2 separate regions of the Homo sapiens genome follow, and region 1 is linked to region 2. The links come from fine-mapping of genetic effects on gene expression. A gene starts in region 2. The other region holds a variant in brackets. All regions are shown on one strand. Distances are between the middles of the regions.

The links.
Region 1: its variant is fine-mapped to the expression of QSOX1 in whole blood (INTERVAL, PIP above 0.99).

Annotation. Positions count from the first base shown.
Region 1 is chr1:179,905,898-179,908,813 of GRCh38, reverse strand. TOR1AIP1 (torsin 1A interacting protein 1) reads right to left here. Exons shown (of 10, transcript NM_015602.4): 7 at 950-991; 8 at 141-209. Among named protein-coding and RNA genes, the nearest start is that of TOR1AIP1, 25 kb to the right of the region's middle. The variant TG/G (reference allele first, on the strand shown) is at 1,385.
Region 2 is chr1:180,153,377-180,156,292 of GRCh38, reverse strand. It overlaps QSOX1 (quiescin sulfhydryl oxidase 1), which reads right to left and starts at 1,424. Exons shown (of 12, transcript NM_002826.5): 1 at 1,121-1,424. The coding sequence starts at 1,385. It overlaps LOC105371636 (a long non-coding RNA gene), which reads left to right and starts at 1,455. Exons shown (of 2, transcript XR_001738314.3): 1 at 1,455-2,294. RefSeq lists an enhancer at 1,150-1,249 and a silencer at 1,430-1,749.

The sequences.
Region 1 (2,916 bases), 250 kb after region 2:
CTAAACTAGTAATCATAGCTGTACTTTATTAGTGAAATCACAAACAACCTAAATGTTTATCTGAAGAACTAAATATTTTTGTCAAGAAAAACATAGCAAATACACAAGATTATTTCAATAACAGAGATTTATCTACTTACTTTGCATCCTGGTCCTTATTCTTGCAGTTTGTGGGGCCCATTCCTGGGGAGTTTTTTGATATCCTGAGCCTGAAGCAAATACATATATCAAAAGATAATTTCCCATACTTTGAAAGTTTATACCATATTCCAGTGTTATAAAATTAATCTATCAGAAAGACAAAATAAAGTAGGGGAAGAAAACAATAAAAGCAATAGTTTTATAAGTAAAAGATAATTTCAAAGGATCGTATCAGTGAGGATGAACCACTTCCTACAGCAAAGCAGGTAGCAAATAAATATATTATCACATAATACAAATTACTTGTGGTAAAATAGCCCTGAACACATTTCCATATCACAGAGTAATTATTATAGGTAGTACCAATCCGTGGTGAATTAAAAAGGTAAAGAGGGGTAAAATGACTTAAAATCTTATTACAACTTTTGTTGGGAGAATAAGGCAAGGTTAGAATTGATTGACTGAGGCTGGGTGCGGTGGCTCACACCTGTAATTCCAGCACTTTGGGAGGCCGAGGCAGGTGGATCATGAGGTCAGGAGATCAAGACCATCCTGGCTAACACAGTGAAACACCGTCTCTACTAAAAATACAAAAAATTAGCCGGGCGTGGTGGCGGGCGCCTGTAGTCCCAGCTACTTGGGAGGCGGAGGCAGGAGAATCGCGTGAACCCAGGAGGTGGAGCTTGCAATGAGCCCAGATTGCACTCCAGCCTGGGCGACAGAGCAAGACATCGTCTCAAAAAAAAAAAAAAAAAAAAAGAGAAAAGAATTGATTGGCTGAAAAAAGAGCAGACAACCAACTACTTACTTAGCACTGAAGGTTGCTTATCATGAGCTGTGAAGTTTTGACCTGAAACAGAAAACAGGGATAAGGTCATAGAATACTTGAAAATAACAACAAAAAAGATGTTGCACAGACATTTTGCTTGTTTACTGTGGATACTAAAAACAAACAACAGACAAAAAACATTCTCTCATCAATTCCAAGCATATAAATATATAAAGTATATATATATAAAAAACATACATATACTATATATATACATATATATACATATATATATATATATATATATATAAAGTGTGTGTGTATTTCTTTCCCCCTCATTTCTAAACTTCAAAATGTTTAGGAATTGGGCAACAATAAGGAGTTAGTTTAGGATCAGTACCATCAAAATAAAAACTACATATAGTCATATATATCAAGTATAATTTTGTTTAATTCTTTTTTTTTTTTTTTTTT[TG/G]AGACAGGGTCTGACTCTGTCACCCAGGCTGGAATGCAGTGGCACAATCTCAGCTCACTGCAACCTCCGCTTCCCAGGTTCAAGATATTCTCCTGCCTCACCTTCCCAAGTACTTGGGATTACAGGTGTGCACCACCATGCCTGACCAAATTTTTTGTCTTTTTAGTAGAGACAGGGTTTCCCCATGTTGGCCAGGCTGGTCTCAAACTCCTGACCAGGGTTTCACCATGTTGGCCAGGCTGGTCTCAAATTCCTGACCTCAAATGCTCTGCCTGCCTCGCCCTCCCAAAGTGCTGGGATTACAGGCATGAGCCACCATGCCCAGCCAATTTTGCTTAATTCTTATGTGGTAGATGCTATTACTGTTCGTATTTTATAAATAAGGGAAAATCAGCTGGATGCGGTGGCTCATGCCTGTAATCCTAGCACTTTGGGAGGCCAAGGCAGGTGGATCATGAGGTCAGGAGATCGAGACCATCCTGGCTAACACGGTGAAACCCCGTCTCTACTAAATATATAAAAAATTAGCCAGGCGTGGTGGTGGGCGCCTGTAGTCCCAGCTACTCGGGAGGCTGAGGCAGAAGAAGGGCGTGAACCTGGGAGGCGGAGCTTGCAGTGAGCTGAGATCACACCACTGCACTCCTGCCTGGGCGACAGAGCGAGACTCTGTCTCAAAAAAAAAAAAGGGGGGGGGGGAACCAAAATTGGTAATTTTTCCAAAATTATATATCTAAAAGTAGTTGGGCTGAGATACAAATCCAGGCAGTCCATATCATATACCACATACCATACCATAAAGAAATGGTATGTACTATCTATGCAGATTTATGGACATTGCAAAGTAGCTATGAAGTAAAACATGCTACTTCAGGTTTTGAGGTGGTATTTAAGGATAACTGTAAAATGACACAATGGGATGACTAAAAAATGACATTACAATTATAACAAGGTAAATTTTCAAATCTGCCCTGAGAAAATGAGTTACTCTTTGATGATAAATACAAGTATCGATTTACATTTATTTATTTTCAACTTTTTCTGAATACAAACATGTGCTAGCTGTTTAAAAAAAGGGGCCATTCTAGAAATGCTTAATTTAAAAATTCATGAATATCTATCTGTTAAGTATCTACTATGTGCAAAACATTGAACATAGAAATATTATGGTAAATAAGACAGATATTCTCTCAGCTTTGTTTTCAGCCTATACTAAAAATATACTTTTAAAAAAGTGGATACATACGTTTTAATATTTTCATCAAATTCTAAGACATACTTTTTAAAAAATGCCCTTTGATCTACAGATATATCTTTTAATTAATGGTATGGCATAGTTTAACTGGATGGTTTTTCTTTCTCATTGATACATAAAATCAATAGTATCTTAAAGTCAATGAAATATATCTTGATCAACTTTTCATTAGGATACAATGAACTAACTCATTTTTCATTTCTAAATAGTATTTCTTTTTTTTTGAGATGGAGTCTTGCCCTGTCACCCAGGCTGGAGTGCAGTGGTGCAATCCCAGTT
Region 2 (2,916 bases):
AGGAACAAATCACTATCACTATACCACTCCTGCCCGCCAAATACCCACTACCTGGATTAGGTGGATGTGTGACACCACAGGAATCTTTAAATTGTGGAAAGGAAACTATGAGACAATGTATGCCGAGTACTTAGTAAGGTGCCTGAAATGATAGGTGCTCCGTAAATATTAATTACTATTATTACCATATTTCCTCGACTCTAAGTCTTAAGTGTTTCAAAATTTTAGCATTTCTGTAATAGAGTTCACCTTCAAATCTTTATACATGTAGTGGTTTTTTCCTATCCTTCTACCCCTTGGGCTGTCATAAAATGAACAGTGTGTCTCACAGTTGATGGTGTCTTGGAATTCAGGAAATATAGTTTTGGTGCCCCAACCAGGGATTGGGAACATGGAGCAAGAGCCAAACACGCACCAAAGGCCTCTGGGTGCATGGGTTTAAAATATAAGGGTCTGAGCGGGGGAAGAGAGAGAAGGATGTGGCCCAGAAGCTAAGGAGCTGGAGGCGGCAGGTCAGGAGAGGCCCGGAACAGAGATAGGAAAACTGCCAGGTGGACATACCCACATCAAAGACAAAAATGAGAAAGGAAGTCTATGTACCACCTGGTCAACCAGTCGAGGGAGTGGAGAAAGGTGGCAGGGAGGCAAAATGGATGTCCGTTCCCTTTTCTCCCCAGCACTGACCCACAGCAGCTAGGGAACCTGGCAGGAAGATGACATGGGTCCCTGGACGAGAGGAAGAGGACTGCCACAAGGCTGGCCCAGGAAACGGTAAGGTGTCAGCGGACCATGCGGAGGAAGGAACAAAGGAGACCTCTCGCAGGGAAGGAGGCAGTAACCTGGCGGGGGACGAACCGGGCGAGCAGGGCAGGTCTGGGGGCCCAGGCCGCGGAGAGGGAAAGAAGCTCGGGATGAGGGCCAAGAGGAAAAGGCAAGGGAGCGGGAGGCAAAAATGGAGCTGAGAAACATGAAGGTGGTGGGCGTGGGATGCGCGGAGAGGAAGAGGTGGGCGGAGGTGACTGGAAGAGGGACGCGCTCCCGGAGTAGGAGGCTGCCCACCGGGCAGGTGGAGGGGTCCGGGCGGCGGGGCACGGGGGAGCGGGCCGCCCCCGCTTCTCACCTTTGACGTCTTCGGCCAGCGCCTTCCACGTCGGGGCGAAGGCGATGCAGTGGCCGCACCAGGAGGCGAAGAACTCCACGGCCCAGGCGCTGCGGGAGCCCAGCACCGCGCCGCGCACCGTGTCCGCCTGCAGCAGCGTCAGCGGGTCGGAAGGCGAATAGAGCGCCGACCGCGGGGCCGCGTTAGCGCCGGGAACCGCGAGCAGCCACAGCAGCAGCAGCAGCAGCGACGGCGGCGGCCCGGAGCCGCTGTTGCACCTCCTCATCCTCGGCGCTGCGCTCACCACCACACGCAAGCACCGGATGAGTCGGGTCCCGGCGCCGCGGCACCGCCTGCCTCCGCCCGCAAGGAGGAGCCACGTGGCCCCGCCCCTGAGCCCCCGCCCCCGAGCCCCCGCCCCCGAGGCCGGCCCAGCCACCCCGCCCCGCCGGCCGCTCCTGGGCGCGGGAGCGGGCGGGGCTGAGCTTGTTGCAGGGGCTGGCCCTGGCCGGGTGGTGAGCCATCCTTTCGCGGTCCGCCGAGGCCTCGGAGCAGCGCGACCCGGGTTCCCGCCTCAGGCCCCAGGAGGCGAGGTGTACAGTCCGGTAAAGGAATGGAGCGCCCGCCGAGCGGTCGCTGCGGGGGTAGCCTCGCGGAGGTTGTTTGGCCTCTCACGGCCCCCGTATCCAACGGAAGAGGAGTCCGTTGGAATAGACGACCCGGATTTCGGCTGTTGTAGGGCAGTTCCTGGGCTCCCGCGGAGCGATGAGACGTTGTGAATTAGATGTGAGAAGAGGGACGCTTGGTCTGCGACCACCAAGACCCCACAGGATCGATGCACCCACCCCTGCTGATGACCATGACCATCTAAAGGGGAACATCATTTGAGGGGCCCTACTCATGGATCAGAAGCCCCTCTTCACTGTGGGGTGTGCTGGGTTGGCGGGCAGTTGCCGTGGAATCAGTTTCCTCAGGACCCATATCTGACCACCCTCATAAGGTTGTCAGGGCGATTCCAACATTCGGGGTTCCCAGCAGCCCAGATCCCCCACATCCAGCTCTTCAGCCTACTCAGAGCTCTCCACGCTCACTCACATGTCCCTCTCGCAAGTAGCCCGATCAACTCACCTGGTGTCATGGGCACTAAGGTGTTAATGGATTTTCTCTGGTCACCTTTGCAGCTCCACTGTTTTGAGTGAGTTATTTTAAGGGGAGAAGGTGCTCCTCAGACGGTTGTCACAGTGATATTTTTCCTTTGTGACTGCCAGGTTAGCCCCTTTCACCTGTAAGAGCTTTGAGCCTAGATTTGTTATTCATTTATTCAAGTTTTACTGAGTGGTGTCATGCCAGGCACTTGTTTAGGTATAAGGATAAGGCAGTAAACAAAATATAGACTCTAGGGACGTGGAACTTACATTCCAGTGGGGGTAAAGAGATGATACATAAGTAAATGTAGATCAGATGGTGACCGATGTTATGAAGAAATGTAGACTGGGGTAAGAATAGAGTGGCAGAGGAGGTGCTATTTTACACACGAAGATCAGGGACAGGTCTACCCTTAATATTTGCAAGAACTGAGTCAGTAGTACAAATGGAGGCCCACATATCATGTCTACATATTTTAAAACTACAAATTAAACGGTGATGTAAAATTCCTATCCTTTTATCTTGACATGTATACCTTCATCATAATCTGGAAGGCCACATTTAAGTTTAGGATTCTTGGACCCTTCTGAGATACGCCCTCGAATGTAGTGCTTTGGAGGGGGAACATGTCCTTGGCCCTCAGCCTTCCTTCTTCTCTTGGCACCCCAGCT